Regions from separate parts of the Homo sapiens genome. Here region 1 is linked to region 2. Evidence: fine-mapped expression QTL. A gene starts in region 2. The other region holds a variant in brackets. All regions are shown on one strand. Distances are between the middles of the regions.

Region 1 (3,020 bases), 170 kb after region 2:
AGCATGCTATTGGCATTTCTGTAAACAAACAATATTCTAGCCAAGAGAATTACTGTATATGTTGAGCATATGAAGTACTTAAAGAGCCAAGATAGTTTCCTAAACGCGGAAGGAAAACGATCAGAAAACGAAGGAACCCAAAGAGAAACGTACCTGGGTTCCGCTGAAGCACCAGCCTGCTCTACGCAGAGAAGCACACTTAGTGAACCAACAGAAGAGGGCCTGAGCTGCTGGAACCTGTTCCCTATGAATTTATGGCACAATAGGTGCCAAAAAATTAAGGACCTCTTGACTGTTAAAAAAAAATCCATGTAATTAGTGGCTACTTATTAGTGCAGCAAGCCTCAGATTTTACATTACAATCACCTGCAGGACTTGAAGCAATTTGGTGCGTCCGTCTCAGAGCCTCTGATTCAGTAGGTCTTGGTGGAGCCTGAGAGTTTTCACTTCTTTTCTTTTTTTTTTTGAGACAGACTCTCACTCTGCTGCCCAGGCTGGAGTGCAGTGGCGTGATCTCGGCTCACTGCAACCTCTGCCTCCCAGGTTCAGGCAATTCTCCTGCCTCAGCCTCCCGAGTAGCTGGGATTACAGACATGTGCCACCACGCCCGGCTAATTTTTGTGTTTTTTGTAGAGATGGGGGTTTCACCATGTTGGCCAGGCTGGTCTTGAACTCCTGACCTCAGGTGATCCGCCCACCTCAGCCTCCCAAAGTGTTGGGATTACAGGCGTAAGCCACCATGCCCACATGTACACATACCCGATTCCCCACTTTCATTTCTTTTGGGTAGGGAGCTCCACTTCTAAGCTCCCTCACATGTCTATTGGAAATTGTCAATTCATCTTGGGCCATTTTTGGTTCAGTTCATCTCAAAAAGTTATTTTGTCGTCCCTATAAATCCAGAGCTAAAGGACCTCAGCAGTATCCTTTTATAGAGTAGACACTGCACTGCAGGCCCACCTGACTGAGACTCAGAGTCCAGATTCCGGCTGGAGCAGGAAGTCGGTAAAATGTCCCCCAGTGACCCCATCCCCAGGTGTTCAGCCCCTTGTGTGATCCCCTCCCGCTGTGTGTGTGCTGGACTTGCTTTTCATGAAGAGACTAGTGGAAGTGGTGGCTTGTCACTTCTGAGATTAGGTTACAAAAGACTAGCTTCCTTCCCGTTCACCCTCTCTCTCACTGGTACTGG[T/G]GGAAGCAAGCTGCTGTGTTGTAAACAACCTGTCAGGAGGGCTGTGTGGCAGAGCAAGGGACTGATGTCACAGTGCTTTGTGATTCTTTTTCCCCCTGAAAGCCTAGTGGGATAATTACAACTTGAACGGAGCCATCTTCTCTGTTCTGCTCTACACTCCCCTACACAATCCATCTCCCGATGTGCAGAGCCAGCCAGGGACCACGACCTAGGACAGCCCAAGTGCAGGGGATGAAATGCCTGTGATCCTACAAGTCCTGTGGCACCAACTGCCCCCCACCTCTGGTGCCTCCACATTGATACAGCCAGGGGAAGACGTTTGACAAGCTAATTAGATTGCCTCATTACGTATTTGGAATCGGGGCATTAAAAAGCGAGGGTAGTCAGATGGCAGGAGGCCAAGCTCATATAGATATGGCTGATGTCAGTGGCCTAGCAAGTCACTTATGTGGGAAGCCAAAATGTCTTCGGAGGTAGTGTGGTATGCTGGTAAGGCTCCCAGAGTGCGGAAGTAGGCGGCCTGGCTTGAATCATGGCTCCCATTTATCAGCTATAGGACTTGGGGCAAGTTGCTTAACCTTTAGGTGACTCTGTTTTCTCATCTGTAAAATGGGGAAATGGTATTGAACTCAACTAGTTAAAATGAAAAGAGTTGACATACACAGGGGACACAGCACAGGCACACAGCACACACCCGAGAACTGCCAAGAGACAAGAAGGCTGCAGAGAAGGCCCTACAGCCCCGAAGCCCACAGACCAGCAGCTCCCAATGACATTCCAGTCGTCAGAGGAGCTGCCAGGACTTGAGCACTTTATTTCAACCATCAAAGCGTTTCCACAGAGAGCAAACAGAAATATTTCCTATGGCATTTTACCTAATTAAGTCTTCAGCTCAACACTGAAAGACTTTTCAATTTAAAAATCATACACCACATTTATGTGAAAATTTTATTTTTCTTTTTATTGCAAATTTCTGGTAAAGGAAAGAACATGGAAGCTGATTCTCATTTGAGCTTTGGTGAGAAGAGAACTGCACTGTGGCTCGACAGCTCACCACCTCGGCTGCACACCCAAACACGCGGAGGCCTCGGGCACGCACTGATGCCTGCGACCCACCTCCCAGAGGTTCTGACTTAATCGGTCTGGGAGGCACAGCGGGGCATCAGTAGATTTCCCAACTCCTCTGGATGATTTCAACATGTAGCCAAGGTGAGCACACCTGCGGTGGCTCATCTCAAGGGGCTGGCAATGTCAGAAGCACCTGAGAAGCTCAGCTGACAGCCAAGTGTCACCTGCTTACATCACTCCTTGGCCAGAGTCCAGCTGGTGTTCCCCGCCTCCCTCTTCCCAGGTGTCGATGTTCTGATTCCTTCTCCTCAAAGACCCCACAAGACAGAGATGCTGGAGGGGGTGTGGCTTCCTGTGCTGTGGTTTGTGCTTAAACGTGGAGAACCACATGAACCACGTGTACGCTACCACAAAAGAAATTCACTTTCTGATTGCAAAACAGCATTCGCCTTTTTTTATTTGTTAAGTGGAAATTTGTGGCAAAATAAGAAAATATGTGTTGGATAATATAGTCCCTATATAACCTCTCATGTCCAAATTTGAAAAAAAAAATTGTCAAGCCATTGACAGCAAAATATGTACTTTAGCAGCATATTTTATATGGGTAAACAGTAATAGCCAGTTAGACACTTCATTTGTGATTTGTCCTAAAAATAGAAAATGCTTTTTATTTTCCTGAGTCCTTGGCAAACAAAAAACATTTTTTTCTTTTTAATTGTTAAAGTATTCCTGTTTTTCTTTTTCCTGGGACACCCTCACAGTT
Region 2 (2,726 bases):
TGTTCCCCTCAGGCCTGATCGTACCCCAATGGAATCACCCAAATACTTGATGCTGAGCCTTTCTATGGATTTATCAGATGAAACTTTGGAAAGGGACTTTTTTTTTTTTTTAAGACAGGGTTTCGCTGTCACCCAGGCTGGAGTGGAGTGGCGCGATCTTGGCTCACTACAACCGCCGCCTGCCAGGCTCCAGAGAGTCTCCCACCTCAGCCTCCCAAGTGGCTGGGACCACAGGTGCATGCCACCAAGCCCACCTAATTTTCTTCTTTTCTTTCTTTCTTCCTTTCTTTCTCTTTGCTTCTTTTTCTTTCTTTCTTTCTCTGTCTCTTTTTTTTTTTTTTTTTTTAAGAGATGGGGTCTCGCCATGTTGCCCTGAGGTCTGGCGATCTACCGACTCGGCCTCTCAAAGTGCTGGGATTACAGTCATGAGCCAGCACGCCCAACTGAGAGAGACTATGATGTTCTCCAAACAAATCTCATTTGGTTGAAACTCTACAGCTGAGTATGGTCTAATTTGAGTAGTTTACCTTGAGTACTCTAACCATGGTCTATAGACCTGGGCTCTTCTGAGAACTGTTTGCAAATGGTTCACAGAGAGAGAGTAGAAAACTCTATGTCAATTTTGCAGGTAATTTTATGGCTGTTAACTCTAACGATAAAAAGTTTTGACTTGGACTTTGTATGTCTTTTCATTTTTCTGTTTTATTAACTTGTCAAAAACTAATTGAAAATTGAAAAAAATAAACCGACCGTTCCCCCAGTGAAGAGAAGCACTGCTGTAAAGCTTTTCACACTCAAATATTACCAAACTCTAAGGTCGCTTCTGAGGCCTAACTCCCCAAAATGATGCCTCGGATATTTTTCCTCGCCTTATTTCTTTTTTTTCTTTTTCTTTTTTTTTTTTTTTCCTTTTTCCTTTTATTTGAGACGGAGTTTTTGCTCTGTTGCCCAAGCTGGAGTGCAATGGCACGATCTCGGCTCACTGCAAACTCCAACTCCGCCTCCGCCTCCGCCCTCGCCTCCTGAGTAGTTGGGATTACAGACGCGCGCCACCACGCCCAGCTAATTTTTGTTTGTTTAGTAGAGACGAGGTGTCACCATGTTGGCCAGGCTGGTCTCGAGCTCTTGACCTCCGGTAATCCACCCGCCTCGCCCTCCCAAAGTGCTGGGATTACAAGCGTAAACCACCGCGCCCGACCTCCTCCCCTTATTTCATCCATTTTATAATTCACATTATTGATCGCTGATAATTGCACCTATTGTAATGATACTGATAATTGCACCTGTTGTAATAATATTGATATTGATAATTGCACCTATTGTATTACAATATTATTATTGATATCGATAATTTCACCTACTGTAATGATCAATAAAGGCAGGCAGAAAGAAAACAAAAGTAACTGAAACTACCAGGCAGCGTCCCTGCGAACAGCAAAGAGGGAAGAAACGCCTTGAGGCGTAGTAACGCCACCAATAAGGAGTCGACGCGACGGGTCCGCCCACAGGCAAGGAAGGCCGACCCCGCGAGTGCAGGCGCGAGCGCTAGCCCGTGACGTCTGAGGGGGTTGGGGGGATGCTGTGTGGGTTTCAAGAAGACGCCACGCCTCCGCCGCCGCCACGCCCCCGCCGCCTCCACCGCCGGCTGCCGCGCCCGGAGGAGGTCGGGATGTTATCACTTCCGCCGGGGCTTCTCACTGTGTCCGGGTCAGCTGCTGCCGCCGACGCCGTACCGCTGCGGCCGGGGGATTGGGCCGGGGTCTCCACCGCCGACCGAGGGGAGCGGGCTCCGCTCGGCCCTGCTTTTTGCGACCTGGCCGTCAGCCCCACGTCGCCGGCCTGGAGGGGCGAAGAGGACGAGGGGGCCAAGGCTTCCTCCGGGGTGAGTGCGGCCTGGGAGAACTCGGCACGGTGGCTCCGGAGCTGGACTGGGAACCGGCCTAGGGGCGAAAGTCTGTCGGGCGCGTGCCCACGACGTCCGGGGAGAGGAAACCCAGAGAGTTACCCTTGGTAGGGGGAGCCATAGAACCTGCTCGGGAGGTGCTTCCTGGATCCCCGCCCTGCTTAGGTCCCCGCCCTTGGCTTGGGTCCTGTTTGTATTTGGCAGTTTGGCCCCCCACCCCGTCGCTTTTCCGTTTCTGGTAGTTGTGCTCGGGATGGAACCTTGCCCCTCCTCCGCTCCCCCACCCTTTTACCCTGGTGTGGGTGAAGTGGCTGGGCTACGATGGTTCAGTATTTATGACCAGCGTCCGTCCTGGTACAGAACAAAGAAACTTGGACTTCTGGTATGCCTCGTAACCGCGGGGAATAGACACGGAAGCAGCATAAGTAATCAGGGCTTTAATAGATCTTCCCTAGTACGCTAAACCAAATACAGAGTGTGTACGTCAAAAGCCGAGTCCCCGCGTGAATCTAGACACAACCCTTTCTGTTTAAATACCTGGCAAAATGGTTTGGATTTCTGGATGCATTTCATGCCGCTGGAGAGTTACTTGTCTGTGTCTTGTGAGCTCTTTGACGAAACAGCTTTTCCGGTGTTGCATCAAGATAGTTACGGTGCCTCCTATTTATTTAATTGAATAAACTATGTGATTGCATTTTAGTGTTGCTTTTTTCATTCTCACCTTCTCTTGATTAGGATCTCTATTTCACCTAATACCTGATTTCGTATTTTCAATTAAATGTAGTTTTTCTAACATTTTATAGGAATCTCTGCAATTGTAGAA

The links.
Region 1: its variant is fine-mapped to the expression of BNIP2 in whole blood (INTERVAL, PIP above 0.99).

What each region holds. Positions count from the first base shown.
Region 1 is chr15:59,522,659-59,525,678 of GRCh38, reverse strand. It overlaps FAM81A (family with sequence similarity 81 member A), which reads right to left. Exons shown (of 9, transcript NM_152450.3): 9 at 2,124-3,020. It also overlaps the pseudogene RPL21P114. Among named protein-coding and RNA genes, the nearest start is that of FAM81A, 86 kb to the right of the region's middle. The variant T/G (reference allele first, on the strand shown) is at 1,190.
Region 2 is chr15:59,688,291-59,691,016 of GRCh38, reverse strand. It overlaps BNIP2 (BCL2 interacting protein 2), which reads left to right and starts at 1,697. Exons shown (of 10, transcript NM_004330.4): 1 at 1,697-1,882. RefSeq lists a silencer at 1,420-1,929 and an enhancer at 1,343-1,991.